Linked DNA regions of Homo sapiens. The protein of the gene in region 1 purifies or fractionates together with the protein of each later gene. This does not show direct contact. Each region holds a gene or a part of one and is shown in the gene's direction. Other genes may lie near its edges.

What was found.
Region 2: the proteins of INSL6 (region 1) and RMND5B purify together in Homo sapiens (affinity purification with mass spectrometry; one large-scale study listed by BioGRID and IntAct). This does not show direct contact.
Region 3: the proteins of INSL6 (region 1) and TRIM44 purify together in Homo sapiens (co-immunoprecipitation; one large-scale study listed by IntAct). This does not show direct contact.
Region 4: the proteins of INSL6 (region 1) and FREM2 purify together in Homo sapiens (affinity purification with mass spectrometry; one large-scale study listed by BioGRID and IntAct). This does not show direct contact.
Region 5: the proteins of INSL6 (region 1) and FSTL1 purify together in Homo sapiens (affinity purification with mass spectrometry; one large-scale study listed by BioGRID and IntAct). This does not show direct contact.

Annotation. Positions count from the first base shown.
Region 1 is NC_000009.12:5,181,387-5,187,921, reverse strand, and holds the start of INSL6 (insulin-like peptide INSL6 precursor), read left to right. Parts: upstream 1-2,282; 5' UTR 2,283-2,319; coding exon 2,320-2,608; intron 2,609-6,535. UniProt on the Homo sapiens protein: May have a role in sperm development and fertilization.
Region 2 is NC_000005.10:178,140,299-178,146,091, forward strand, and holds part of RMND5B (E3 ubiquitin-protein transferase RMND5B), read left to right. Parts: intron 1-2,284; coding exon 2,285-2,430; intron 2,431-2,553; coding exon 2,554-2,694; intron 2,695-3,328; coding exon 3,329-3,429; intron 3,430-3,643; coding exon 3,644-3,810; intron 3,811-5,793. UniProt on the Homo sapiens protein: Core component of the CTLH E3 ubiquitin-protein ligase complex that selectively accepts ubiquitin from UBE2H and mediates ubiquitination and subsequent proteasomal degradation of the transcription factor HBP1.
Region 3 is NC_000011.10:35,660,871-35,667,142, forward strand, and holds the start of TRIM44 (tripartite motif-containing protein 44), read left to right. Parts: upstream 1-1,904; 5' UTR 1,905-2,241; coding exon 2,242-2,910; intron 2,911-6,272. UniProt on the Homo sapiens protein: May play a role in the process of differentiation and maturation of neuronal cells. May regulate the activity of TRIM17. Is a negative regulator of PAX6 expression.
Region 4 is NC_000013.11:38,692,579-38,698,371, forward strand, and holds part of FREM2 (FRAS1-related extracellular matrix protein 2 precursor), read left to right. Parts: intron 1-5,119; coding exon 5,120-5,209; intron 5,210-5,793. UniProt on the Homo sapiens protein: Extracellular matrix protein required for maintenance of the integrity of the skin epithelium and for maintenance of renal epithelia. Required for epidermal adhesion. Involved in the development of eyelids and the anterior segment of the eyeballs.
Region 5 is NC_000003.12:120,401,657-120,407,449, reverse strand, and holds part of FSTL1 (follistatin-related protein 1 precursor), read left to right. Parts: intron 1-2,478; coding exon 2,479-2,597; intron 2,598-4,095; coding exon 4,096-4,208; intron 4,209-4,531; coding exon 4,532-4,642; intron 4,643-5,793.

The DNA of each region.
Region 1 (6,535 bases):
GTGTTTCCATTTTGGAGTTTTTGAGATGGAGTCTCACTCTGTCACACAGGCTGGAGTGCAGTGATGCCCTCTCAGCTCACTGCAACCTCCGCTTCCCAGGTTCAAGCCATTCTCCTGCCTCAGCCTCCTGAGCAGCAGGGATTACAGGTGCCTGCCACCACACCTGACTAATTTTTCGTATTTTTAGTAGAGACAGGGTTTCACCATGTTGGCCAGGCTGGTCTTGAGCTCTTGGCCTCAAGTGATCCACTCACCTCAGCCTCCCAAAGTGCTGGGATTACAGGCATGAGCCACTGAGCCCAGCCTGTCTCAAGATATTTTTTAAACTCCCTTTATATTTCTTCTTTGACCCACTGGTAGTTAGGAACATGTTCTTTAATTTCCACATATTTGTGAGTTTTCAAAAGTTCCTCCTTTTATTGATTTCTACTTTCATTCCATTGTGGCCAGAAAAGATATTTGATATTATTTTATTCTTCTAAATTTATTAGGACTTGCTTTGTAGCATAACATATGATCTATTCTGGTGAATGTTCTCTGTGCATTTTAGAAGAATGCGTATTCTGTTGCTGTTGGATGGAATGTCCCATAAATATCTGTTAGCTCCACTTGTTCCAAAGTATAGTTCAAGTCTTTTGATGAGTCTCTTGTGGGCAGTATATAGTTGAGTCTTTTTTTTTTTATCCATTCAGCCCTGTTTTTTGATCAAAGAACATAATCCATTTACATTCAAAGTAGTTATTGATGGGTTAGAATTTACTACTGCATTTTGTTAATTGTTTAGTGGTTATTTTGTAGATCCTTTGTTCTTTTCTTTTTCTCTTGTTCTCTTTGTGATTAGATGATATCCTGTAGTGGTATGCTTGATTTCTTCTTTTTTATCTTTTATATATCTACTATAGGTTTTGCCTTGTGGTTACCACAAGGCTTACATTCATCTCAGTATGATTAATATTTTCCGTTCTCAAAAACCTTACCTGATAAAGTTCTGACTAGGACTCATGGCCCACTATAGTTTGGACATAAGTTATTTTTTAAGGAAGGTGATTAAATTTTACTAATCTATATTATATCAACCATTTAAAAAATCCAATTGGCAGTTAATTTAACAGCATTCATGGATGCCACTGGGAAGCAGGGAAAAGATAGGGAAACGGAAAATTAAGAAAAAGACATAGAGTCAGAAGACAGAAAAGAAAGGGAGAAAAAAATAAAATTGTATAGGGAAATGGTGAGATCACTGATAAGCTTGCACCTGTGGCTTCAGCATCCTGAACCTTATTCCTGAGACAGCCACCGAATGCCCTCTTGTGGCCGATAGTACATCCTTCCACGCCAACACACTAGTAACACAGAACTTCATTTAAAATGATAAAGCTACCTATGCCGATTGCGCTTCGCTTCCCTGCCCCTTCCCTCCTAACTGAGCAAAATTATCTCACCTAAATGAGCATTTCATGCTGCATGCTGTTATTCTTACAAGGCAAATCCTCTAGGGGTCCCTGTCACAAGTTAATTTGGTAATACACAATCCTCTACATTATCTAACCGAAAGAACCAGATTTCCATCCCAGGTACCTCAAGACAGCGTCCCTACTTCTTTTTTCTGGAGATTGAGGCTAAGGCCCATGCCTCCCTGTGAACCAGTAGGATTTTTCTGAAGAAGCTTTGAACCTGACTAAACGCACATGGCCATATGCAACACTTAAACGTTTCACCACATATTTGATTGCCAGCTAAATGCCAGATCCCGGGGTACGATGGAAAGCAAGAACAGACGCAGGCCCTTGCCTTCATGAAGCGGGGGTCTCAGGAAAGAGGTTACACGCCCACAAATGGAAACAGGTCGATTAACACCGTGAAAGAGATGACAGGGGGTTTCTGTGAGGGAGACGAAGCTTTATTAACAACCTGGCAAACAAGAACGAGAAACGCATTCCAGGTGGAGGGAGCAACACTTTTTAACCTACGTTATCAGGTAACAGGGATCCTATGTTCTCACGCTTGGTGAGGAATCTCCCATTGAGGAAGGAAAGAAAAATGAATCAAACTAGGGGGTGGCGGGGTAGTGAGGGGATTTTTGGCTTTCATTTTAGGAGCCAGGGCCTGCTACCTTCGACCACCTGAGACCCCTGAGCTGGCGGGAAAGCCTTGACGCAGCCGGCGCGCGCCTTCCCTTGAAGTTCTGGCGACGCCCCCACGCGCTCGGAATTCCGCAGTGTTTGTGCGCGCCGCTCGGCCTGGCGCAGGCGCAGACAGGGAGCAGGGTCCGGCCGACCGCCATTGCACAACGCGGAGGACTAGCCTGGGGTCACAGGGATGCCGCGGCTCCTCCGCTTGTCCCTGCTGTGGCTTGGACTCCTGCTGGTTCGGTTTTCTCGTGAACTGAGCGACATCAGCAGTGCCAGGAAGCTGTGCGGCAGGTACTTGGTGAAAGAAATAGAAAAACTCTGCGGCCATGCCAACTGGAGCCAGTTCCGTTTCGAGGAGGAAACCCCTTTCTCACGGTTGATTGCACAGGCCTCGGAGAAGGTCGAAGCCTACAGCCCATACCAGTTCGAAAGCCCGCAAACCGCTTCCCCGGCCCGGGGAAGAGGCACAAACCCAGGTAAAAATCGAAACCGAAGGCATGTTTGTTCACCTCTGTATATTTCTTATTCCTGCATTTGCTCTGCCAGAAGGTGAGCTTCCCCAGGAAGTGGAATTTGTGCCTAGTACACAGCTCTTTAAAAAATTGTAAAAAACAGTGTATTGAAAATATACAAAACTTCAATGAAGCGCTTTTTTTTTTAACTTGGAGGAAATAAATGTACACTTGTAAGTCTACATATTTATGTAAGAATGTTGTTCTTTTCTGGAGTGCCAGTCATCTGGCAAACTCCTTTTTGTCCTTCAAAGCCCAACTTAAGTATCATTTTCCCTGTGAAGTCATCATTGACCTTTTCATGGCCAATGGCTCCATTGTCCTTTCTACCACAGTATCTAGCACATAGTTGTATTTGACTGTCGTCATTGGCTACAGAATCAGCCCAACCTTGTAGAAGATAAAAATGCAGAGTACCTTGTTCAAAAAAGCAGGAAAGGGCCATGAAAATAAAGGTAGTAAAATATAAAACTGTTTTCCTTACTTGTCCATATCCCCTGGTCACGTACCAGGAGATAGGCCTGGTCCGTTCTCCTATCAGGCTTCATTTAAGAGTTTACGTACTTGTATTTCATTCACTTAAAGTTTCAAAGGTAAATTTATTCAGAACAACAAAGGAACATTTAAACCAAATGCAAGGCCTGTGTGACTACATAGGTTTCAGTCCCATAAAGTCAGCCCTATATACCATACTGTATTATAGGGACTATTTCATGCATATTTTTGTCTGAAATGCTTAGCAGATGGCCTAGCACATCGCATGTGTTTAATATGCGCTGAATTTATACTTGATGCTTTCAAGCAGTCTGCAGGAAGGATATTCTTGTTCCAGATTCATTGGTATATCTTACTATGTTTTTACATTTTGTGACTAAGACATTTTAGTCCCAGTATGATTTGTCATTTTAAAAGAAATTGCACTTTGTTTATAGTGTATCCATAGGAAGAAGATTACTGCCTTTTACAGTAATTCAGTTGATTTGATTTGGACAAATCTTGTAAAAGTGAAGATTTCTGAAATTAAGGAAATGAGTAAACTATCATGCCAAAAAGAGACCCTAATGTAGAGGACTGAAAAAAGTCAAACAATGCACATTGTAGGCACTCATTAGCTTTTTTGGAATGAATGAATAGAATTTATAAAGTCACTGTTGCTGAAAGAATAAAAACTTTTAAAGACAGAAACCATGAGACTGATTCATGATCATTTTCAAACCGACCCATCAAACTAACCCACATACAAACCTCACCTTGTCCTTCTGTTATAATGAAGGAAGTGTCTCTCCCCAGTCTTCTACTTTTACTTTAGTTCAGTGACTCTCACGCTTTAATGTGCATATGAATCATTTGGGAATCCTGTTAATTTACCGACTCTGAGTTAGTAGACCTGGGGTGGGGCCTGATATTTTTCGTTTTTAACTAGCTCCCAGGTGCTGCTAGTTCGTGGCCCACACTTTTGAGTAACAAGGTCCAGTTTACTGTCTGTCTCTCTCTTTTTTTTTTCTTTTAAACTCCTCTTTCTTGTTCTTTTCTCCCAGGAGTGCAAGGAGAGCCTTCCCTTTCTGCTTTATGTTGGGTGGGCATTTCTCTCACATCAAATACTGTGCTTTCACTACCTATGCTATAATACTGTAGTCAAAATTTTATTTTTAGACCTCCAAGCTTGAGGCTGTTATTTAAAGAGAGGTTGGAATGCCTTTTCTCAACAAAGTGCTCTAAAGACAGTTTTCTTAATAAAAATGTTCAACCTTAAAACTCAGCTTGTTAATGATCCTTTTGTTTTAAGTATTATTCACACTCCCCTGGAAGAATAAATGTCATTAATAATGAGCAGGAAGCTGCAATGAAACAAGACTTGTAGAAAATAAAAATGTATCTGAAAATATTTGAAAATTGTTATACCCACAAAACCTGCTACTATGGAAACTATGTAAAAGACAGTTTGCTGAAGTGGAAATACTATGTAACAGTAAAACCACAGTTGTATTGAAATATGTAGAGGAAGGAAAAATGGGTTAGGTTATCAACATGAATTGTATTATAATTTTAAAAATTATTAATCTATAAGGGAAGATGACATTTATTCTGTCCTGTTAATTTCTAGGAAATAATTTAGAAGTTGCAGAGATGTATATGTTTCTAATATAGAATACATAATTATGACATCATTTTTATATATGAATATGGCTGGAAAGTTGATTACTTTTTATTTCACTTTTACCAGCAGGACAAGTTGTTGTGTTAGATCAAGTCAGTTGTCTGAAATTTTAATATCCTGATGATCTACTTGAGTCTGACACAGAAAAATATAATTTGCTACGCTGCTATTAAAAAATGCTTTTTTTCAAAGCTACTTATACATATCTTGAATCTGTAATTGTGTGCTTCTTGTTAATGGACCCTGAAGGTGGAGGCAGTATCTCCAAGACCTACCCCGTAATGTGGCACCATGAAGTTGACATCATATTTCTAAATTACGACTGAGTATTGTGCTTCCGAGATATTAGTGCCAGGTGAAATCATTAATGTTTCAAAATCAGCTTTTCATAATCTGTAACCCCTATTCCAGTTAGATTAATCATATTCCCATATTCTTAGTCTTCATGTCACATATTCTTGTTTTTTTTGTTTCTTTATGTTTCAGATATCATCACAACTAGTCTGTAAAGGGCCCTTCTCTTTATATATTAGTTCAACAAAATTTGAGTACCTATCATGTGTTAGGCACTCTTCTTGGTGATTGGGATGTTAGAGTAAACGGTGAAGGCTCCTACCCTCATGAAGCCTACAGAATAGTAAAGATAGACAATTAACATAAGTAAATTATAATTTACAGAAGGTGATTATCCTCACTTAGCCCCTTTCTCCACTCCCATTCTCCTCCTCTCCTTGGCAATTGTTGTAATGTGTTTATTATATATTTTTTGTTTTTATAAGTTTTTGCAAATTATGCATTCTTTCCTGTTCATATGTTTTAAGATATATCTAAAAGGCATTTAAGATCTATATCTTATTGTTGCTATGTGAACATTTAGTCCATTGCTTCTAACTACTGCATAATACTCATGTGCATTCCTCACATTTTACTGATTTATTCAGTTTTGAACACCTAACCTATGTAGCCTTGAACTCCCTACCACTACAGATAACACTGCCATGAACATCATTGTATGTGTCCCCTTATGAACCTAGAAGTGTTTCTGGGATACACATCTAGAGTGGAATTGCTGTGTCATGAAGTATGTGTATGTTTAATTTGCCTGAGGAGTATCAGATTGCTCTTCAGAGTGACTACACCAATGTATAGTTGCACCACCAATCCTGTGTCCTCATATCTATGTCAACAATTAGCATTATACAGTTATTAACTTTTACCAGTGTAATAGATGTAAAATGACACTATATTTCTATTTTAACTTGCTCTGGGTCTGAACATCTTTTCATATACATGTTAACCTTTTGGATTTTCTCTTAAAATTTCCTGTTTATATATTTTGCCCAATTCTTGTTGGAATTGTTATCATTTTCCAGTTGGTTTATAGGAGTTAATCAAATCTAGATACAGTAACAACTAGTTGTTGGTTTTAGATGTCACAAATATGTTCTCCCATTTTGACATCTGTCTATTGCTGTTGCTTGACAGAAAGCCTTAACTTTTATATAATTAAGCAGTAAGTGTTTTGCCTTATGTATTAGAGGTCCTTTTCTGTCCTTCTGTTAACTTTTCAGTTTTACTTTTCACATTAAGTCCTTAATTATTAGGCTAATTTTTAGTTCTGGTCTCGGTAGGAATATTACCTCACTTTCTCAGTAAGTCTTTTTTTCTCTACATAGGGAGCTAGTTTTCTGAACACTTTCTACTAATCAATTATTTTTCTCACTAATTTGTGG
Region 2 (5,793 bases), on another chromosome or scaffold:
AAGTAGCTGGGACCACAGCAGTACACTACCAGGCCCTGCTAATTTTTTTTTTTTTTTATTGTAGAGACAGGGTCTCCCTATGCTGTCCAAGACGGTGTCGAACTCCTGGGTTCAAGTGATCCTCCCGTGTCAGCCTCCCAAAGTGCTGGGATTATGATCCGCTGCACCTGGCCTGATCTTCACTTTGATCACTTAGTTAAGATGGTCGCTGCTAAGGTTTTCCACTGTAAACTTCCTAATTTTTCTTTGTAATCACTAAGTAGTTTGTGGGCTGTAATCCTAGCACTTTGGGAGGCTGAGGCGGGCGGATCACTCGAGCCCAGGAGGTTGAGACCAGGCTGGTCAACATGGCAAAACCACATCTCTACTAAAAATACAAAAATTAGCCGGGCATGGTGGCACATGCCTGTAGTCCCAGCTACTTGGGAGGCTGAGGCATGAGAATCGCTTGAACCCAGGAGGTGGAGGTTGCAGCGAGCCAAGATCGCGCCACTGCATTCCAGCATGGGTGACAAAGCGAGACTGTCTCAAAAAAAAAAAAAAAGTAGTTTGTGGGGAGATACTTTGATACCATATAAATGTCCTGCTCTTTACCAAATTTCAGCCTACTAGTTTTAGTATCCATTAATGATTGTTGTGTGAATTATTACTAAGCTGTCTGCAACATGGTGATTTTTCCTGCTTTGTCATTCTTTATACATTTATTAGTTGACATTCAACTGAAAAGAAGCTTTCCCTTCTCCTTTCATTATTATCACTTCACACTCATATTCTTATTTTATTCAATAGGTTATAATCCATTGCAGTTATTTAATGTTCAAATTGTCTTAGGTCTGACCAGAGGGAGTCCCTGGTTCCTATGTCTTTTTTAAAAATTGAGCTATAATTCACTTACCATTAAACTCACTCTTTTAAAGTACTCTGTCCAGGTGCAGTGGCTCATGCCTGTAATCCCAGCACTTTGGGAGGCTGAGGCAGGTGGATCACCTAAGGTCAGGAGTTCGAGACCAGCCTGGCCAACATGGTGAAACCCTGTCTGTACTAAAAAATACAAAAATTAGCTGGGCGTGGTGTCATGTACCTGTAATCCCAGCTACTCAAGAGGCTGAGGCAGGAGAATCGCTTGAACCCAGGAGGCAGAGGTTGCAGTGAGCCAAGATTAAGTCACTGCACTCCAGCCTGGGTGACAGAGCAAGACTCTGTATCAAAATAAATAAATAAAGTACAACTCTGGATGGGCATGGTGGCTTATGTCTGTAATCCCAGCACTTTGGGAACTTGAGGCGGGTAGATTGCTTGAGTCCGGGAGTTTGAGACCAGTCTGGGTAATATGGTAACCCTGTCTACCAAAAATACAGGTATTAGCCAGTCTCATAACTCGGTCTCAAAATAAATAAATACATACATACATAGATGAAAATTTAAAAAATAAAGTCCAACTCAGCGGTTTTCAGCATATTTACAGAGTTGTACAATCTTCACCACTATCTAATTTCAGAACATTTTCATCACCCCCAAAAGAAACCTAACCCATTGACTGTCTCTCCATTTCCTCCCTCTCCCTAGCCTCTGGCAACCACTAATCTCTTTTTTGTCTCTATAGATTTGCCTATTTTGGACAGTTCATATACAAGGAATCATACCACATGTAGCCTTTTGTGTCCGGCTTCTTTGATTAATAGAATGTTTTCAAGGCTCATCTATGCTGTAGCCTGTATCAGCACTTCATTCCTTTCTATGGCTGAATAATAGTCCACTGTAGGGATGTGCCATGTTTTTCCACTAGCTGATGGACATTTGGGTTGTTTCCACCTTCTGGCTATTATAAATATTGCTGCTATAAATATTCACTTACAAGTTTTTGTGTGGACATATGTTTTTATTTCTTCTGGTATATCCTTCGGAGTGGAACTGCTGGATCAGGTGGTAACTCTAGGTCTAACCTGGCAGTTAAACAGAATCCTATGCATGCTGTAGTCCATGAGTTGAAATAAACACTTGACCCATAGTAAGTGCCAGATCATCTTCATTTCACAGCAACCAGTAATTTCACAGATGAGGAAATGAAGGCTCCCAGAGGTGAACTGGCTTTTCCCATTTGAGCAGTTCCAAGTCAGACAGTTAAAAAGTGGCAGGACCTGGAAGAGAAGCTAGTTCTTTCACCCTGGCATTCAGGGCTGCCTCCTGGGCTACGGGGCTGGCATTTAGAATAGAGCTAAGGTCTGCTGCCAAGGCAGGTGCCCCAGTCTGCCTCCTCTGTGTCCTTATTCCACTTTCTCTGCAGCCCTCCAGGGGACCCCTCTCTCAGCCACCCTCTCTCTGGTGATGTCACAGTGCTGCCGGAAGATCAAAGATACGGTGCAGAAACTGGCTTCGGACCATAAGGACATTCACAGCAGTGTATCCCGAGTGGGCAAAGCCATTGACAGGGTGAGCACGTGGCCGGCTCCAGGCGTGGGGTGGGAGCACCCTGAAGCTGGGATGTACAAGGACTCGAAGGAGAGCCAGCAAGAGTGCCCGCATCACCAGGCCCTGTCTCTCCTCCTTCGTCAGAACTTCGACTCTGAGATCTGTGGTGTTGTGTCAGATGCGGTGTGGGACGCGCGGGAACAGCAGCAGCAGATCCTGCAGATGGCCATCGTGGAACACCTGTATCAGCAGGGCATGCTCAGCGTGGCCGAGGAGCTGTGCCAGGTACAGTCGGGCTGGGCGGGCGCAACAACCTGCCTGCTCTGCCTTTCACCTGCTAGTTTTCACTGTATGAAGTCCCTACCATTCTCAAATCCATTTATTTCCTAAAGGAAATCAGCACCTCTGCCAGAAGCAGAAGGTAGCTTTAAAAACATATATGATGAAAAGAGAAGTTACTCATTTTTAGTTAGAGTTGGTTGCCAGCCAGGGCTCTGAGCTGAGGCCTCATATCCCTTTATTGAAAAGGGAGCTGAGTGAAATGACAAAGTAGTACTTGTTAGGTGTTAAAGACACACTGGTGGTAAAAGTAAAAGATTTTCCCTACTGTACTAGGAGGATTGAAGAGGAGTAATTTTCTCGCCATGCAACTCAGTGCGTAGCCTGGGGACTGTCTCCACTGCTACGGTTGTGGGGTGGGGTCTGCAGTCTGCACTCGAGGTCAGCATGTCATACTCAGCCTCCCCAGGACTGAGATGGGAACAAGAGAGGCCCAAGTGGCTGGCAGGAGACCAAGCTCCTCAAGCAAAGCCCAGCTCTCTGGCCTGTCTTTGGCGGGTGAGCTTTTATTATGTGCATAGCAGAGAACTTTGGAAACACCATCTTCCAGTGGTGGGATCTCTTCTCTCTCTCCTTGTAGGAATCAACGCTGAATGTGGACTTGGATTTCAAGCAGCCTTTCCTAGAGTTGAATCGAATCCTGGAAGCCCTGCACGAACAAGACCTGGGTCCTGCGTTGGAGTAAGGAGGCCCTTGGGTGGGCCAGCAGCATTCTGCTTCGACCTCTCAGGGCACAGGGCTTGACTGTGGTCTTCATTTCACCCAGATGTACTTGACTTGCCTGCAGCCCTGTCTCAAGAGCCTCACACAGGCTTTTGGGGCCCTCCTCTCAGGTGCTGGCTCTCAGGTCCTAGCCCCCACCAGCTCTACACTAAACTGGCCCCTTTCTTCCCAGATGGGCCGTCTCCCACAGGCAGCGCCTGCTGGAACTCAACAGCTCCCTGGAGTTCAAGCTGCACCGACTGCACTTCATCCGCCTCTTGGCAGGAGGCCCCGCGAAGCAGCTGGAGGCCCTCAGCTATGCTCGGCACTTCCAGCCCTTTGCTCGGCTGCACCAGCGGGGTGAGTGCCCAGGCAGCTGGGGTTGTGCTGCCTGGCCTGACACATGTCTGGATGTGGTAGGTTACATCAGGCTGCCAGTCCCTGCACCCATGTGGGGCTGTCTGTTACACAGATGCCTCTCCCCAACTAGAAACTTCTCTGACCCCTCGTGTCCAGGATGAACTCTAGACTCCTCCTCTCTCACATCTGCCATACCTTTAGTTTATAGCTTCAGCGCAGACCACCCAGGGTCCTCGTGCCTGCTATGCGCCACACCACACTCATTTAGAGCATGCCATGCCCGTCCCACCTGTTCTGCCTCGTATGCCTCCCTGACCTGTGTGGCCTATGGAAAAGTCCTTTAAGAAAAAAAAAAAGGCCAGGCACGGTGGCTCACGCCTGTAATCCCAATATTTTGGGAGGCCGAGGTGGGCGGATCATGAGGTCCATCTTGGCTAACATGGTAAAACCCCATCTCTACTAAAAATACAAAAAAAATTAGCTGGGCGTTGTGGCGGGCGTTTGTAGTCCCAGCTACTAGGCTGAAGCAGGAGAATGGCATGAACCCGGGAGGCGGAGCTTGATCGCGCCACTGCACTCCAGCCTGGGTGACAGAGTGAGACTCCGTCTCAGAAAAAAAAAAAAAGACTTGTCTGGGTGCGATGGCTCATGCCTGTAATTGCAGCACTTTGGGAGGCCAAAGCAAAGGGCGGATCACTTGAGCTGGAGACCAGCCTTGGCAACATGGGGAACCCCTGCCCCTGCTCCCATCTCTACAAAAAATAAAATAAAAAAGACTCAGTTGAGCACTCTTCCTGTCATGCTAGAATTTCCAAACCTGGAATCTGAGTCTCACCTATGCTTACAAGTAGTAACCTGTACTAACTTGTTTTTTTAGTTCCACCTCATATTTATTATTTTAAATTTTATCTCAAAATAAATATGAAAACCAAGCCATGATTTATTATTTATTTTTGAGACAAAGTCTCACTCTGTTGCCCAGGCTGGAGTGCAGTAAGTGGTGTGATCCCGGCTCACTGCAACCTCCACCTCCCAGGTTCAAGCGATTCTCCTGCCTCAGCCTCCCGAGTAGCTGGGATTACAAATGCCTGACACCGGCCGGGCATGATGGCTCACACCTGTAATCCCAGCACTTTGGGAGGCTGAGGCGGGTGGATCATGAGGTCAAGAGATCGAGACCATCCTGGCCAACATGGTGAAACCCCATCTCTACTAAAAATATGAAAAATTAGCCGGGCGTGGTGGCGGGCACCTGTAGTCCCAGCTACCCGGGAGGCTGAGGTAGGATAATCACTTGAACCCGGGAAGCGGAGGCTGCAGTGAACCGAGATTGTGCCACTGCCCTCCAGCACTCCAGCCTGGCGACAGAGCGAGACTCTGTCTCAAAAAAAAAAAAAAACACACAAAAAACACACACACCAAAAAAAACAAGTGCCTGACACCACAACCACGTCTGGCTAACTTTATATATTTTTTATTAGAGACGGGGTTTCACCATGTTGGCCAGGCTGGCCTCAAACTCCTGGCCTCATGTGATGCACCCACCTTGGCCTCCCAAAGTGCTGGGATTATAGGCATGAGCCACCACGCCCGGCCCCAAAACATGACTGAAGTTTTAGCTAGATACTGCTGCCTGTTGAAAGCTCTTAACCTGGGGTTGCTCTAAATGGAGATTAGTGTGGAGACACCAGTGCCAACCTGAGGACTTATTTGATCCTTGATGCAGTGGGGGAGGAAAGAGAACTGGAAAAGAACTGTCCTCATTCCTGATTCTGTGTTAGTAATGCCTGTTCTCATCCTGCAGAAGCAGCCTGGACCTCCACCTCCCCAGTGGATTTTACAGTCAAATTTGCCTGAGGGCATTTTCATCCCTGCTCAGTCTCCTCAGGGGCTTGGGAGCCACCGGGCTCAGCATATTGTGCTGTGCTGCACAGTCCTGCTGCCCGCTTGGGGGTGGACCCAGAGCCCTGCACCCCCTGAGCT
Region 3 (6,272 bases), on another chromosome or scaffold:
GCTCACGCCTGTGGTCCTAGCTACTTGGGAGGCACTTGGGAGGACTGCTTGAGCCCAAGAGGCTGAGGCTGCAGTGAACTGTGATTGAACCACTGCACTCCTGCCTGGGCAACAGAGAGAGACCCTGTCACCAAAAAAAAAAATAAATAAAAAAAATAAAAATTATTTTCATTGAATAAAAGACTTTCTAAATGTGAGAACGTTATGTTTGTAAAGGCTAAGTTGTTTCCTTTTAAGCCTGGGGGAGGACAGGAGTAGAAATAACCAAGCAAGGCACACTTCTCATTAGGTATATTAACGTTGATGTTTGAGTTGACATTTGTTGAATTTTTTTTTTCAGAATGGTGCTTCAATTCATGTTTCAAAAGCAGACACAGAAATAATTTCCAGAGAAATGAGCTGGGGGAAAACAGAAATGTGTATGGAATTGGAACAAAATAAACCTGATTTTTTTCAACATTGTATAGAATTGTTCTGAGGTTAAAAAGAAAGGTTTCTAAAAAATAAATATCTAACAAAAGCTGCACAAAGATTAGGCATACATTATCCATGGAGACATTAAAAACTATTAAAAAGGTTTTTTTACCCCACCTCATCCCCTGGTATGTTTGAGGAAAGCATCTGGAAATTCTAACTCAAAATCATCTAAGGGAATCAATGTAAAACAGACACCATTCCATCCCCTTTCATCCTTCTTAATACACCTCAGCCTCTCCCTTGACTAGATAAAAACGTAATTTTCCCTCTCCCAAATACAGTGCAAAACAAAAACTCTTCTGTGAATGGAGAGACATGGATATGGGGTAGAGGTGGAGACTTGCCTACATTACCAGCAGCCAGCCGAAAATGCCCTGTGTGTGTAAAATATGTTCCTTCAAAGGGGCATTGTGAGCACTAAATATAATTTGTGCCAAAAATAATAATGAAAGCTTAGTGAATACTCTACAGTGCAGGCATCGTTACATTTAATCCACAAAACTACCCCATGAGGTAGATATTTACCGTTCTTTTCACTTAACATCTTTTTTAAAAAGCGGAAAACAGAATGATGAATTAACTTGTCCATGGTCATAAAACTGATAGGTAGTGGCACCAGGATTTGGGGACCATCGGGCAGAGGATCTTCCAAAACCGGCTTTTAAAGAGCCACAAAAAGATGTAGCCGGGTTCTTGGCACTACAGTACTGCTTTATAAACAACAGTTCCCTTCTTTTCTCTTAGAGCCCAGTGGGAATCTAGAGGGACACCTTACATAAAGGAAAATGACTGCAACCTGGACCTGTCACTCGACAAATACTGCCTCTCCCCACCTCACTTCACCTGACGTCTCTGCCCAACCGAAGGCAGCTCTCAGAAAACCGCACAGAGGTTACCACCCCAGAAATTCTGAGATCCTAGGAGGTAGCAATGCAAATAGACAAAGCACAGTATTGCTTTGGATCGAAAATATTTGTTTGCTCATCCTAACTCCAATTCCCCTAGCCTAGAACAAACATAGCCCTTCCGCACTCAGGAAATCCCAAGAGGTCAGGTTCAGTCTGGTAAACAACACTGTCCGGGCACCTTGCAGAACACTGGGGACTGTGACGGGCGGCGACAAATTGGCACAAGAGAGACTGAAATGCACAGGGACACCAGCCTAGTGGCCGTGAAAACTCAAGTTGACACTTCCAGGGAGGGAATGGGGGAGGTGGAGCCCAATTCCTGCTTCTGGAGAGAGTAAGAGACTTCCTCCATCCTCCTTCTCCCTCCTCCTCCTCCAAGGCACGCTGAGATTTGGAGCGGAGGAGCTGAGCCCCGCGGGAAAAGCAGAAAAGGGTCATTGCCACTTTAAATGACTCAGGAAGTAAAAGGAGGCCTCCTGACGGGGAAAGGGAAAGTGGAACCGGGGCGGCGCGGGGGCCGGCGGCTGCCGCGATCTCTCCCTGGTAGCGGGAGGCTGAGCGGGCGGCGCGACGCGGGGGCCGACGGGGGCGCCGGGTGGCCGCGCCGGAAGTGCCTTGCGCGGCAGAGGAAGCGCAGGGACAGAGCGGAGCAGGCCGAGCCGGCGGAAAGGGTCTTTGCTGCTGCGCCCGGGCAGGGGCTGCCGCGGCCCCAGGTCCCGCTTCGAGACGCGGCGCGGTCCAGGCGGGAGGCGACTCCCTAGGAAGGGACCCGGGGCGGGAGGAGGAAGTGAGGCCGCGCGGAAGGAAGGCGGCGAGCCCCGGGGCCCCGAGGCCTTGGCCGCGTCACAGCACCCACATGGCCTCTGGAGTGGGCGCGGCCTTCGAGGAACTGCCTCACGACGGCACGTGTGACGAGTGCGAGCCCGACGAGGCTCCGGGGGCCGAGGAAGTGTGCCGAGAATGCGGCTTCTGCTACTGCCGCCGCCATGCCGAGGCGCACAGGCAGAAGTTCCTCAGTCACCATCTGGCCGAATACGTCCACGGCTCCCAGGCCTGGACCCCGCCAGCTGACGGAGAGGGGGCGGGGAAGGAAGAAGCGGAGGTCAAGGTGGAGCAGGAGAGGGAGATAGAAAGCGAGGCAGGGGAAGAGAGTGAGTCGGAGGAAGAGAGCGAGTCAGAGGAAGAGAGCGAGACAGAGGAAGAGAGTGAGGATGAGAGCGATGAGGAGAGTGAAGAAGACAGCGAGGAAGAAATGGAGGATGAGCAAGAAAGCGAGGCCGAAGAAGACAACCAAGAAGAAGGGGAATCCGAGGCGGAGGGAGAAACTGAGGCAGAAAGTGAATTTGACCCAGAAATAGAAATGGAAGCAGAGAGAGTGGCCAAGAGGAAGTGTCCGGACCATGGGCTTGATTTGAGTACCTATTGCCAGGAAGATAGGCAGCTCATCTGTGTCCTGTGTCCAGTCATTGGGGCTCACCAGGGCCACCAACTCTCCACCCTAGACGAAGCCTTTGAAGAATTAAGAGTAAGTATTGGGCCTTCAGAGCATAAACCTAGGGGTCAGGACACCTGGGTTTCAACTCAGGTGGCCTGGCTGTGACCACATTCGCTTTCACTGTGTCCCTAAGAAGCTAGTCTTTCCAACTTTTTGGGAGCAGTTCTTATTCACCGTTTTTGGTTGAACTCTTTTGAGAATCTGATGAAAGTTCTGGACTCTGACCTGAGAAAATACACACAAAATCTAGTATACAATTTCTAGAAAATTGCAAGTTTCTGGTCTGTGGATCCCAGGTAAAGCATTTCTTGGGAGTTTTGACCCCACTTAGGCCAATTTCCACAGCATCACTATTGTTGAAACTGGTGCTTTGTGCTAGGGCTCTTGATAAGGCAATCTTTTTGCCTACTTGAAAACATGGGAAATAGGATTTTGCCACATGAATCCAAGCAAGTGATACGTCTGCATTGAAAAGACTAACAAAATAGTTTTAATAGTAACTTCATATGTGCCCCGAGTTCATTTTAGATTCTTCGTGTTTGAAACTTAGTAGAAAAGGAGGGTAAGAAGATGGAGGCCAAATTGGGGTGGGAGTGGAAGTTCCCATGTCCTCTGTCTGGATCTTTGTCTGTCGTGGACCTTACTGGTCCCCCAGAACAGTGGACACTTCGGAAATATTTGTTGAATGAATGAATTTGCAGACGATGCACCTTTTATTCATATTGTGGATGTTTACTATCATTGAGAGAAACTGCTGGTGTTAATCGGGGAGGGAGGGGGAAATTTTGAGTGGAGTGATCAGTTCATTAAGTAATCTGTATTAGTGAACATTGTCATATTATGATGACTTTTGCTTCCCTGAATAGGGAATAGCTGGCATTGGGATAACAAATACCTTGAGAGTGAAGATCCTCTGTATTAGGTTTTCCCTTTTTTAGTGCCTATTTATAATTGTAAAATGCACATTCAGAAAGTGTGTAAAAACTTACAGTCTAACAAATAATTATAAAACAAGTACTGAGGTAGTCTCCATCCAGATTAAGAAATAGAACATTACTAGCAATATTGAAGCCTTTTCCCCATACCTTTTCCAATTATAACCATCTCTCTTCTGCATAAGTAAGCATAATCTTGACTTCTGTGATCATTTCCTTGCTTACCTTTATGCTTTTACTCCATGTGTATGCATTCCTAAACTTATTTGAACTTGACACTATGGGTGTCATATTTTTATCATGCATTCTTCTGGGTTTTGCTTCATTTTCTCAACATTGTGTTTGTGAGAGTCATCCTATGAGTGACTGTAGTTTATTCACTTTCATTACTATTTCGAATTCCATTTTATGAATATGCCACAAGTTATCTATTCTGTCATAGATGGTCATTTGATTTGTTCCCAGGTTTGGGAGCGTCGGGCTGTTACAAACAATGTCAGTGTAAATATTCTTGGTCATGTCTCGGTGTACATTTAACATACATTTAAGTGGAATATAAACGCAGGAGTGAAATTGCTGTGTCAGAGGCTATGCATATCTTCAGTAATACTACATGTTGCCAACTATTTTCCAGAGTGGTTGTACCAGTTTGAATCACTATGAAGAGTATATGAGAGTTCCTGTTGCTCTGTATCTTCAAAACTTGCTATTACTGTATTTTTCATTTTTGTCAATCTTGTGGCTATGTAATGGTATTTTATTGTGGTTTTAATTTTCATTCCTCTGATTACTAATGACTTTGAGGATCTTTTATACTTCCTCTGTGAAGTACCTAGTCAGTTCTTTTGCCCATTTTTCTATTGAGTTGTCTTTTCTCATTATATGAGTTTTTATATATCTGTTTTTTTTTTTTTTTTTTTTTTTTTTGAGATAGAGTCTTGCTCTGTTGCCCAGGCTGGAGTACAGTGGCTAGATCTCAGCTCACTGGAACCTGCGCCTCCCAGGTTCAAACGATTCTCCTGCCTCAGCCATCTGAGTAGCTGGGATTACAGGCACATGCCACAATGCCTAGCTAATTTTTGTATTTTTTTTTTAGTAGAGATGTTTTTGCCATGTTGACCAGGCTGGTCTTGAACTCCTGACCTCAGGTGATCTGCCTGCCAAAGTGTTGGGATTATAGGTGTTAGCCACTGTGCCCAGCTATATATTTGTTTCTGATTTTTTTTGTTGTTCTTTCTATGTGGGTTGCAAATATCTTCTATGTGGTTTTTCTTTTTAAAGAAGTTGTGCCTTGAATAGAAGCTCTTCATTTTAATGTGGTAAAACTTATCAATACTTTTCCTTATGGTTAGTGCTTTTTGTGTCTTGTTCTACTTAGTATTGATTTTTGTGTAGTAGAAGTAGGGGCGCAATTTCATTTTTTCTCCATACAGATGGCCAATTGCTATTGCTGTATTTATTGAAAAGCCCTTCCTTTGTGCACTGATTTGCTGTCCCACTGTCATATATCAAGTGCCCATAATATGTGTGAATGTGTTTCTTGGTTCTTCTGTTCTCTACTGTTTATCTGTTAGTATATCCCTGTGTGAACAGCATGTTTTCTCAGTTATCCCTTTATAATATGTCTTAATATCTGGTAAAGCAGGTCCTTCCATCTTGTCCTACAAGAGTGTGTTGGCCAGTTTTGGCACTTTACATTTCTTAGAATCATAGTATTAAAAAGCCTGCAGGAGTGTATTTGGATATTAAATTTATAAGCCAATATAGGGAGAATTAATATCATTACAACATGAAGTCTTCTGATTCATTAATTTAGGTCTTTTTTATTGCTTCGCAGTTAAGTTTTATATTTTTTTCCTCAAAGATTTTTCACATCATTGTAAAATTTATTCCTAGATACTTCATAATTTTATAATATTGTAGAAAATATGAGCCAGGCACAGTGGCTCACACCTGTCAGCTATATGGAAGGCTGAGGTGGGAGGATTGCTTCAGTCTAGGAGTTTGAGGCTGCAGTGAGTTATGATCCTGCCATTTCCCTCCAGCCTGGTCGACACGGCAAGACCCTATCTCTAAAATAAAAATAAATGGTTTTAAGTTTTGTTTTCTAATTGAATATAGGAATATGATTAACTTTTATATATTGTTTTTTTGTGATCTATCTGCTGAATTATCTTACATATCCTAATAATTTATCTGTAGATTTATTCTACATACCTGATTGTATTATGTGTGAAGAGAGATACTTTTTGTTTGTTTCTTTTCAATCCTTATATCTGTTATTTGTTTTTTCTTGCCTTACTGCATTGGATAGCACCCCGAGTATTATGTTGAATGGATGTGGTTGGTGGGTATTCTGGCCTTGTTCCTAGTCTAGCAGTAATTGATAACATTGCACAAATAAGTGATATGTTCTATGGTTTTTGAAAATAGATATGTTTTATCAGTTTAAAAAAA
Region 4 (5,793 bases), on another chromosome or scaffold:
GCCTCACAAACAGAGCATTAAATTAGAGTCCAAGAGAAGGAAAGGAAACAAAGGGGATGGGGAGAATATAGGGACTCACTTTCCTAGGAGGACAGCTCCCTTCTTGTCCTACCTCCCATCTCAGTGGCCTTCATTAGAGGGAGTACTGATGTATTTTGAAAGTGGCAAGGATAGGCTGCCGAAGCAGGAGGTGAACTTTGGTGAATTAAAATCGAAGCAGGCTTTCCAATTCTGCTCCATTTGCCATACCTATCCAACGCATCCTCTGTGTTGTATGCTGCAGGTGGTTCATGAAGCATTTTGGCACCTTAATGAAGGATGTGCTTTCTAAATACTGTTTATTCACATTGCTGTCATTATCAATTACCATTCCAAAAAAGCCTTCAAACTTAGGTTACTTTGAATAAATTTTAAGAGCATTGCTCTGACACGGTTATAGTTGTTAGGAACTTTGTAACTAAAAGATTTGTTTACATTTATTTACTTTGTTGATTTTTAAAATTGTTAATAATATTTCATGACAGGCAAATACTCATCCAGAGACGTAATTGATAAACACCTATCTAGAGTTATAACAATGATATTTACAGGGCATGCTACTAGGATATACATGAAAAAGGAAAGTATACTTAAAGATGTGTAAAATAACAATATGTTCATCACCAAAATATACATCTAATTCATTATTAAGAGCATGAAGATAAGTAGACAAGCTTAATATTAGAAGGGGGAAATTATTTCATCATTGTGAACCTCCTCTCTGACCTGTTGCAAACACAGTGACAAAAAACAGTTGCTTCAGGCACCTGCGGTCTTTAGGCAACAGGATTTTTCTAACCTGAATTTCCTTTGTGGGTGGACACAATCTGAGGCAGAAAGGACAAGTGTCCTATGCAGAGTTATTTAGTGAGGGAAGGGAGAAGCCCATTCACTATACTGGCTTGGGAGTCAGGGCTCCGTTCTGCAGAACATGCAACTTTCATTACAGTGGGATTTGGGTTGCTTTCATGAAAATCTCACCATGTCAGAATGGACACTAGATCTTTCCTATGTGGGATCCATGGGTAGAGATGGAGCTTAACCCCAGGGCATCCCAGTGGGGGTGTTCTTTTCCTGCAACTGTGTTGTACTCTTAGATAACAAATGCTTTAATAAACATGGAAGTAGCAAAATGCACTGTTAAAGTGGACTACTTCTCTGTTTGAGGTGCTGGCAAATAGCTCCACACTCCAACCTCCTGATTCTTGGCTAAAAGCCTGAATGTCTCCCAGGGCCTGCAGGGACAGGAAAACCTCAAAGTGCCAAGTGTCATGCCAGACCAGTAGGAAACTTTTATGTGAAGGCTTTCTGAGGCTAGCGATGCCATGCCGTCTTACACTGGTTTATTTTCATGGAGAGGGAAGAGAATGAAAGGAATATATTAGATAATAGAAAATGGTTCTTCAAATTACTCCTCTGACCTGAAAAAGAAATCTGATTTAGAGATTTTTAAAAGGACTATTTTGATGAAGACAGGCAAATGATTTAATTTAAATTCTGTGGACTAAGTCCAACAGCTCACAATATTAGAATATTATTTCTGAAATTTTGAACTCTAAAAATTATGCTATTTCATTATAGGCAGTTGTTCTTTCTCTTACTGACTTTGAGTCACCATGATTAATTTTTGTCATCTTTGTAAATGTAGAGAAGTTATGCTTATTATGTGATGTGACTTTTTAAGAATTTTTAAGGAAAATTATCACATTCCAATATAAACCAAAATATTGACTAGGGAAGCTGTTGGTATTCAATCACATGGCACTCATTCAAACAAGTCAAGGCTAGACTTTGATCCGTAGCTGTTATTTATGGAGATTAGATAAGTGATTTAAAAAACGGAGAAAGCGCCATCAGAAAGCTACCATGGCTCTTTTTCCACTAGGAGAAATGAAAGCAGTGCTTAAGAGTGAAGACTATGCAGTCCTTTTATTTCTTTTTGTTTTTGCTTTATCATGAAGGGATAAGGTAAACCTATATTTTGATGGATTTTCAATGCATTGAATTAGGTCAGTTTAGCACAGGTAGCTAGAGAAGGTTATTCCTAAATTGATTGACTAAATGGTTCCTAGAAGAAAAAAATTAATTCCTTTCTAAAACTTATTAAATTGATGAAAAGTTAACAATGTATAATTAGGTAAATTATGGATATCATTTATTTATTTCAAACTTCACCTCTTTGCCAAGTTGCCCCTGTTCCCCTTAACCCAGATCTAAATTGCATGTCTCAAGTACCTGGATTTTTCTTCCCTACAATAAGTACGTAATGATATATTCTGTGGGATAATTTATAAGCCAGTTTCAGGAAAGCAGAAATGTCTTCAAAGAGTTTGAACCAGATGTGGCTGCCTGATATGTTAATGAACTTAGAATTAAAAACAAACAAACAAAAAAATCTCATGGAATAATTTTGTAGATAAACTGAAATAAATTTAATGTATATTTAACAACTAGAAGAAAATCTAGATAATTCTTAGATATTTGCTTTAAAAAGATTACATTTTGGCTATTAGATTATATTTCTACTACTTTTGTGTCTTAAGAAAGCTAGACGTTATTACATTTATATATACATAAATATGTAACGTGTGTTTATGTTATTTGTAGAGGTGCCTTTAGAATACCAGTATGATGATGAAAGTCTTTACTTACTTTTTTTAGAGGCTCTTTTTTGAACCATGAATTATTAATTAATTATATGAAAAATATAAAAGGTTTTAGTATGTTCCAACTAATCAATAACACATGCCCTAACTTGGAGGGAAAATTGGGTACCAGAGTGCCATATAGTTGCATTTATGTTTTCTTTATCTGAAAAAAGAAAAGTTCTTAAAATTCTGTTTTGAAGTGAGGATTTATTTCAATGAAACTATCCCTTAACGATTACAATTTCGCTTAAGAAAACATTGATACAGATGCTGGGCATGCTAAACAGTGCCTTTTCTCCTAGTAGAGCCTTTAGATTTTCTTATGCAATTTGAAGGGGTGGGAACATTGGAAGAGGGTCTTCTCCACATGGCCAGAGGTCATGGTTCTTGTGGTAAAGATGTGTAGTCAGCAGAGTTTACTGCATTTTTTTACTGATAAAGTGAAGGTTATACAATTAAGAATTATAACAGTAAACAGGCAAAGAGTTGTGTAGGGGCTTCAGTTCTTACCCTGGCAGAAACATCATACATGCAAAGGTAGAGATACAAGTGTGATCTACCTACTCAGCCTTTTCATTTTAAATTGAGAAACATTTGCGCCTTTGCTACTGTAATATCCTAAGCAAAGAGCTGTGGGAAGTTAAGATAGGAAAAAAAAATCCCAGAAGTTTTTCATCTACTGGGAAAGATAACCATACAGAAAGATAAAAGTGAAACTAGGCAGCAAGTGTGGAAAGTTATAGTAGAGTTAGAAATATGGGGCCTGGCTAGGTGGCTTACACCTATAATCATAGCACTTTGGGAGGCTGATGTGGGAGGATTGCTTGAGGCCAGCCTGGGCGACATAGTGAGACCCACATATCTATATTTTGTTTTAAAAAACAAATGAAGTGCTAAGGGAGAATCAAGCGACTTAGGCATGTTTTACCTCCAAATACCTCTATTAGCAGGAGGGTACCATTAACTATAAAATCAGATTTTCCATTCTGCAAGTGTTCCTAATAATGAGTCACCTTTCAAAACTTTATGAGCCAGGGTAGACCACACATTTTACATCTGTAAAGTGGAGCTATAGAAATTTGTGGCATCATTGGTCCATCCTAATGCCTTGCCTCACTTGAGATTAACATTTCATAAAGCCATTGTCTTCTTTATAAGCCTTTGAATTCCATAGCATGAACTTACTAGAGCTTTTAGGAGATGAAAAAACCATAGAACACACACTAGACAGATAAATATTACCTATCATTGTCATAGCTATTTTTAGCCATGATCTTGACTTTATGTAGTCTTAGAAACTCACTGATTGGCCCAGATCAATTAATGATCTATTATGAGTATCACAGAACAAAACGATTTTTTTCTTATTATGTTGTATGTGTGGCATCATTAAGGAAAGGAACTGGTAAGATGGATGAATAAGTTTTAAAAATTGTGTCTTCATAATGAAAACAAATGTATGCATGTGAATTTGATAAAGTAGGAAACAACATAAGGAACATTTCTGAGGCAATATAACTTTCTGCCATGAATAAAGGTTTCCACTTTTTTTTTTTTTTTGAGACAGGGTCTCATTCTCTTGCCCAGGCTAGAGTGCAGTGGTGCGACCTCAGCTCACTGCAACCTTTGCCTCCCAGGCTCAAGCAATTCTCCTGCCTCAGCCTCCCGAATAGCTGGGATTACAGGAACGCACCACCACACCCAGCCAATTTTTAATAGAGACAGGGTTTCACCATGTTGGCCAGGCTGGTCTTGAACTCCTGACCTCACATAATCCACCTGCCTCAGCCTCCCAAAGTGCTGGGATTATACGCATGAGCCACCGTGTCCAGCCCGTTTCCACTTTTATTAGATGTTTTTTGTTCTCAACAGGGAGTCATCAGTTATTTCAATGTGTGTGATTTTTTGAAAATATCATCTTATTTTTTTCTCTCAAACTTTGGAGAGCTTAAAAAATAGCCTGCTACAGCACAAAAAGTAAGAAAAGTTAGCCAGTGTTGGGGAGCAAAGCTCTGTCCTCTGCGGGCCAGTTCCCTACTGGGAGGCAAAGGATGTGATTTCAAGAGTGCCAGGAAATCTGCCATGCCTCAAAATATCTTCCTTTCCACCTGTCATGGTGCCTGACATTCCATATTTAGACAGTCATTCCTTTGGTGCATGAACATGCAAATACCACTGGGAGGGGAAACACCTTGCTATTATTATAAACTAACTCTTGCACTGTATTTATCTGTGTGAGGGATCAGGTGTCCATGGGACAGCTGAAATCTAGGGGCTTAGAGATCTGAGAAATAAGACAGCACTGTTTCTGTTAGGAGGAAAAAGGAATTTAAACATGTTTATAGGAAAACTAATAGCCAATAAAATTTACCATAATGAATCATCAATTTTACTCTGGTAATTAATCATCTTGTTTTTTGGTTATTTTCTAGCTGACATTGATGACATGAAAATATGCTATGTCTTAAGAGAAGGGGCTAATGCCACAAGTGATATGTTCTATTTTGCAGTTGAAGATGGTGGTAAGTATTCCCCTCTCCTGGTAGTGACCGCAAGGAGAGACGCTTTTCTTGGTTGCTCTCTGATGACATTATTACAAGAAGTCTTCATCAAGTAATATTTCATGATCACCTAAATTTAACCTGGTATTTGCTGTAGACAATTTTACAATCTCACTATGACACAATCCTACTATGTCATGGCTATAGATAAAAGTTCTAGTTATATCACTTTTGTCTTACTATTTGTAAAGCACTAAAGAGAGAGATCTGTATAAATAGGATCTCCATGTCTAGTTGTTCAGATTACACCCTGCATGAGTTTGCCTACTTGAGTCAGTAAGAGGATGTTGGAATTCAGCTGCAGTTCCACTCATAGCCATGTGCTCACTGAGGTGTAGCTGCCCAAAGGAGCTGCTTTTTCCTGATTTGCTCATGGGTTCTGTGTGGACTAATACTGATGGAAAATGTGTTGCATTCACCAAGAAATCAGTAGTAAATTAATGTCTGTTTTATCTCACCAATCTCAGGACTTCTAATGATTTTCTTAGTTTGGGGGATTTTGTGACCTAGTCCAGCTAAAAATTTTTCTTGGTTAAGTGTGAAGA
Region 5 (5,793 bases), on another chromosome or scaffold:
AAAGACCCAGGTAGAAAGAGCCTTCCATGCTCTTGGAATTTGGAATCTAATCCATTCCTAATTTCATCTGGGTGTGATCTCAATCCCTGTGGCTCCTGATGGCCAGGGCTGACACTTGAGCCAGCCTTCTTATCTCCTTTACCCTGGCACCACAGCCCACACAGCCCCAGCTGCTGTGCACAAGCAAGTGCCTGTCTCAGCCCATCTCCTCTGAAGAGTCTCCAAACTTACATTGATAAGCCCCAAGAACAGATCTCATGACATACATCTTTTCTGCCTTTCCACAACCCTACAGTTAGATAGAGGAAAAGTTTTGTTACCTCAAATGCTGAAATCTGAAACTTTTTGAGCACCAACATGATGCCATAAGTGGAAAATTTCACACCTGAATTCATGTGATGGGTAGCATTCAAAACACAGTCAAAACTTTGTTTCATGCACAAAATGATTTAAACTATTGTATAAAATTACCTTCAGGCTATATGTGTAAGGTATATAGGAAACAGGGATGAATTTCATGTTTACATTTGGATCCCATCCCCAAGATATCTCATTATACATATTTAAACTTTCCAAAATCTGAAATCTGAAACACTTCTGGTCCCAAGCATTTCAGATAAGGGATAATCAACCTGTATAGAGCTGGGGAAAGAGGCACAGAGAGATATTATGTCTTTGTAACTGACTGGCTGAAGAGAGGCTCAATAAATTAGGTTGGTTCATGGTCCATGATTAGGACCTCACAGGCAGACCCCCCAGGCATTCCAGGCTATTTCTGGGGCAGGCACCAGAATTCTGTGTTCCTGTGGATTCTACATACAACTCTGGCCTGGGGAGGCCCAACTGGACCCTCATGAGTTGAGAAAGCACATGGGCTGGACCTTCCCCCAGCTGCAGGCCTTATTCTAGTCCTACTGAAGTGTGTGTACACAGCACTGCCTTTTGAGAGCTGCCTGGACTGTGGTTGCCAGGTTCATGGTGCCCACTTGGGCCATGTGGCACTGGGTCTGTAGCTAGTGCTGGACGTTTCCCCTCCCTACACTCATTCCATCATCAGGCCCTGATGACACTGGAGTCTTTGAGGGTTGCTGTCATTTACCCAGCACATGCAATATTTGAACTCAAGAAAGCCCTGTGCTACTAACAATGGCCCCCAGCCAAACTTATTTAATTATTTTCCATTAATTAATCAAGACTTCACAAGGTAAACAGGGAAGTTTCGTCAGGGAAAATTGTATAGTGAATAAAGGACATCAGAGACCTGTTCCTAGGAATTAGGACAAGAATGATAAGTACGTACTAAGCAAAGGCCTAATAGTTGTTTCATGCACACCTTCATTATACAACATTAGAGTGGAACACCTGTGACACATGGCAAGCAGGAGAGGAGAGTTGTTAGCTACATCTTCCCCTTCTATCTAGAAATTTGGATAGATGTTTCTTCCAGAATCCCTTGCACCATCTGGGGAGCCATCTTGAAAGTAACATGGGGAAGCTGATCCTTTCCCAGGGCAGCAGCATGAGGGAGCCTAGGGAAAGGATTTGGGAGGAAGGGGGAAAATGTTATTGAAATTTGTTAGGAGAGCAGCCATATGCAACTTGGAATTTGATCAGTCTTGATTTGACACCCTCCTCCTGCAGCTAGTGCCTGGGTGTCTTGAATGGTCCCAGATGGCTGAGGTCTCAGTTTAGCATCTTGCCATAGAGAACAGTGTGTGAGCTTACTGCACTCCTCACTTTGTGCTTGTGGGATGCCAGCTGGGTCATGAGGGCAGCCTGAGCTGGATGATCTGAGGACCTGTGCACACATCTGCAGTGGGGCCCACAGGGCAGAGGAGCGGGAACTTTGCATGATGACCCCTGTCTGTAGCTTATTGCTTTGAGGCCTTTGCCTGAGTTCTCACTGATGTGATCAGTTACGGGCACCAAAGTGAAAGTTAAGCACTGAGAACAGGACAAGGAGGCTGGAATCAAGCAACAAGATTTGGAATCCTATAATTCCAAAGTGAGCTCAGAGGGTCATCTGCATTGCTGCTGTTCCTGAGCAGCTCATTAGAAACATATTCTGGGACCTGCTACAGAGATTCTGATTCACAGCGTGCAACTTTAAACTCTTGTTACATGTTCATCAGGGCTTGAGAACATGATGTGCAGGTTGGTCTGAACCCAAAGGTATAGTCAAAAGTGTCTACAGGGCAGTGTCAGAGATGGGGCCACACAGCATGCTTAGGGACCCCAGAGGCCTCAGTTCAGGTTGCCTCCTCTGCCCAGGCACTTTTCCTCTCTCATTGTGGGCACAGGTACCTTCTCTGCATGTCCCAGGGATTAGAGCATTTGTTGCCAAGGCCCTCTGAGGTCAGGGCAGGGTTGGAATGTATCAAGAACAAGATGAATCAGAGGCAGGTCAGCTGAGTGGAGTAATGATGGAACAGGGGTTCTGCAAAACATCCCTGAACGATCTTGTCATGCCCTTTCTAGAACTTTGATAATGGTGATTCTCGCCTGGACTCCAGTGAATTCCTGAAGTTTGTGGAACAGAATGAAACTGCCATCAATATTACAACGTATCCAGACCAGGAGAACAACAAGTTGCTTAGGTGAGAGGAACCGAGAGGTCAGAGAATGATCCACAAGGGAAGACTAACTGAGAGAGGGGACTTAAACCCTTTCCCACCTGCAAAAGAGCCACCAGTGAGAGAATGTCACGTAAAAAGCAAAATGGGAATTCTGTCCTGTTCTATTCTATGAAAGTATGAATTAATATATTGAGTACCACTGATATCTAATCAAATAGTTATTGTTTTTGGTCAGAACTTGCAAGGACTAGAAGAATATAATTTTAAAATAAATTGCCAAGGGCACGTCAGAGCAAGTTATTTCTGAATGTTGTGGGTGATGTTTTACTGATTAATTTTCTGAAGGAATTACAGTAATGTATTATTTAACTATAGGTCTAAAATAGCTTTGTTCTGATTTTTAGATAATTAGTGCTATTTCATGTCAATTGCCCTAACTGTTACAGATATATGCCCGTCTACTTTTATGGCATTATTCCAGAATCAATATTAATAAAAACTAATCGCTAAGAAACTTTTGATGTGGTTTCAGCACATCGGTAAGAATTAAAAATAGGAAAAGCATGTCTTTTTTTCAAAAGAAGTGCATTGCACAGTTTCTAGAAGGATTCTTCTTTAATAATAGTCTATGACCTTAAAGTATAGGTTCTGTAAATCCTTCATATTTTGATAATCTGAAATTATATGTTTTATAATTTCAACGTTTGAGCCTCATGATATCCCAGTGAAGGAGGGCTTCTTGTCCTCCTTTTACGGATGGGAAGACAGGCTCAGAAAAGTTGAATAACTAACTCAAGTCCATTTGAGTAGTAAGTGATTGAGCCAGGGCTCAAATACAGCCCAAGAAAGAAGTGATGGAGCTGAGTTTTTTTTTGTTTGTTTTGTTTTTTGTTTTTTTTTGTTTTTGTTTTTGTTTTGTTTTGTTTTTGTTTTTTTTTTTTTTTTTTTTTTTTGAGACGGAGTCTCGCTCTGTCGCCCAGGCTGGAGTGCAGTGGCGGGATCTCGGCTCACTGCAAGCTGATGGAGCTGAGTTCTAAAAGCTTTTCTGAAAATCTCTTTCTAGAAGGATGATAATGGTGATTCTTGCTTGAACTTCATATTCTTTCAAATCCTATATTCCTTTCATGTCATCTGTCATATCTCTTCTGTTTTGATTTTCCTAGTTTGGTTGACTTGACGTGTATATACCATGGGGAAAAGCAATTGCTAGTGGAAGGTATGCAGGCAGTGAAAACATTAGACAAAACCATTCACGAAACTTTAGTCATCTTAAGGGGGGGAACATTTGGACAGCCTGGGTGATCTGACATTCATATAACAAACTAAAGGTTAGATGCCTGCATTGGTCAGGATGGATAATAGTTGTGTTGGGTCAGTGTAGAGAGAGGCTGTTTTAGTTAGCAGTCATCTTCTTGGCCTCCTGTGGAGGCCCTGGGTGTATGTGGTCCTGATGCTTACTTCCTTTCTTCTGAGCGAAGCTGAGGTCTTGCTAACACATTTCTCCTGTGTTTTGTTTCAGGGGACTCTGTGTTGATGCTCTCATTGAACTGTCTGATGAAAATGCTGATTGGAAACTCAGCTTCCAAGAGTTTCTCAAGTGCCTCAACCCATCTTTCAACCCTCCTGAGAAGAGTATGCCTAACCTAAGAAATAGAGAGCTGTAGTGAATGGAGGCATTTTGTAGGAGCCAAGATAGAGAGGATTGGTGGAACTCTCCAGAGCTAGCTGAGAAAATCCCCTTCCATGATTCTAAACTGGGCCCCAGCCCATTCTCCCCATGGTGAAGTTAGGGCCCCACATTCTTTAGGTTGATGGTAGTGTTTGCTCAGATATAGTGCTTCTGAGGGACAGGCAGGTCTTGTCTGGGAAAAAAGGGTAAGGTGCACAGACTGTAGCAAAGATGCCCTGTTCCACCCTCACAGCTAAACTGTTGCCCCGTATTTCTGGCCCAACAGAGTGTGCCCTGGAGGATGAAACGTATGCAGATGGAGCTGAGACCGAGGTGGACTGTAACCGCTGTGTCTGTGCCTGTGGAAATTGGGTCTGTACAGCCATGACCTGTGACGGTGAGCTGTGCTTCAAGCAGAAAGAAAAAACAGCAAGGAGAGAGCTTCATGAAATCAGCATGAGAGAAGTTGGGGTGGGGATGATGGAGAAGAGGGCGGTGGCTGGGAGCAAGGAACCCAGGCAGACCCACACCTGTAAGGTTGGAGCCCCAAGTGGGGAGCTTTGAGGGCAGAACATTTATCCCATAGGCATTCAGTTTGAAAATCACTCCAGAGGCTTGGAATAAGAGAGGACCAAGACCCTGGGCAAAAGTAAATGATAATGGAATAGTAACATTATGGAAATAGTAACAGTGAAAGTAGTAATAATGGAATAATAATTAAAAATAGTAATTATTTAATAATTAAAACATTAAAATAAAAACAATAATTATTATTTAATAATAATCAAAAATAATAATGGAATAGTAACAGTGAAAGCAAATACTCAGCAAAAACCATGTGCCAGGCTCTCTTCTAAGCACTTTACATATTAACCCATTGATCCTTATAACACCTTAGGAAATGGTAAAAGACTAGTGGTTGGAAGACAAAATGACTTCTCCTTGCCATACCCAGCAGAAAAAGAAAATATGTTTGTAGACCCTCTTTCAACTAACAGAGATGGGTAATCTTTTTTAAAAAGAGAAAGTTGAGCTAGTTGAGATATGTGCAGGGTGGTCTGGGGAGACAGAGAAATCTGAGAGTTTGTGGGGCAGTGTGAGGCTACAGGGTATGTTGGAACCACTGGAGTCCCATCTGGGTCCTGGGCTACAATGATGCCAAAGATCAAGAGGGACTCTTAAAGCCGAGCCCTAGCAAAGAACCAGGGATATTCAGAGTGGAGGCAAGACAGAGAAGGGTGTTGAAGCCAGGTCTGCAACGGAGAATTGCCTTAAGGTCATTTGGAACCAGGCCGAAAAGTTTCACCAGCTAGGGTGAACCTAAAGTTATATCAGCCAGGCGCAGTGGCTTATGCCTATAATCCCAACACTTGGGGAGGCCAAAGTGGGAAGCCCAGGAGTTCAAGACCAGCCTTGCCAACATAGCGAGACCATGTCCCTACAAAAATGTGAAAATTAGGCAGGCGTGATGGCACGTGCCTGTAGTCCCAGCTACTTGGGAGGCTGAAGTGGGAGGATCACCTGAGCCTGGGAGGTTGAGGCTGCCAT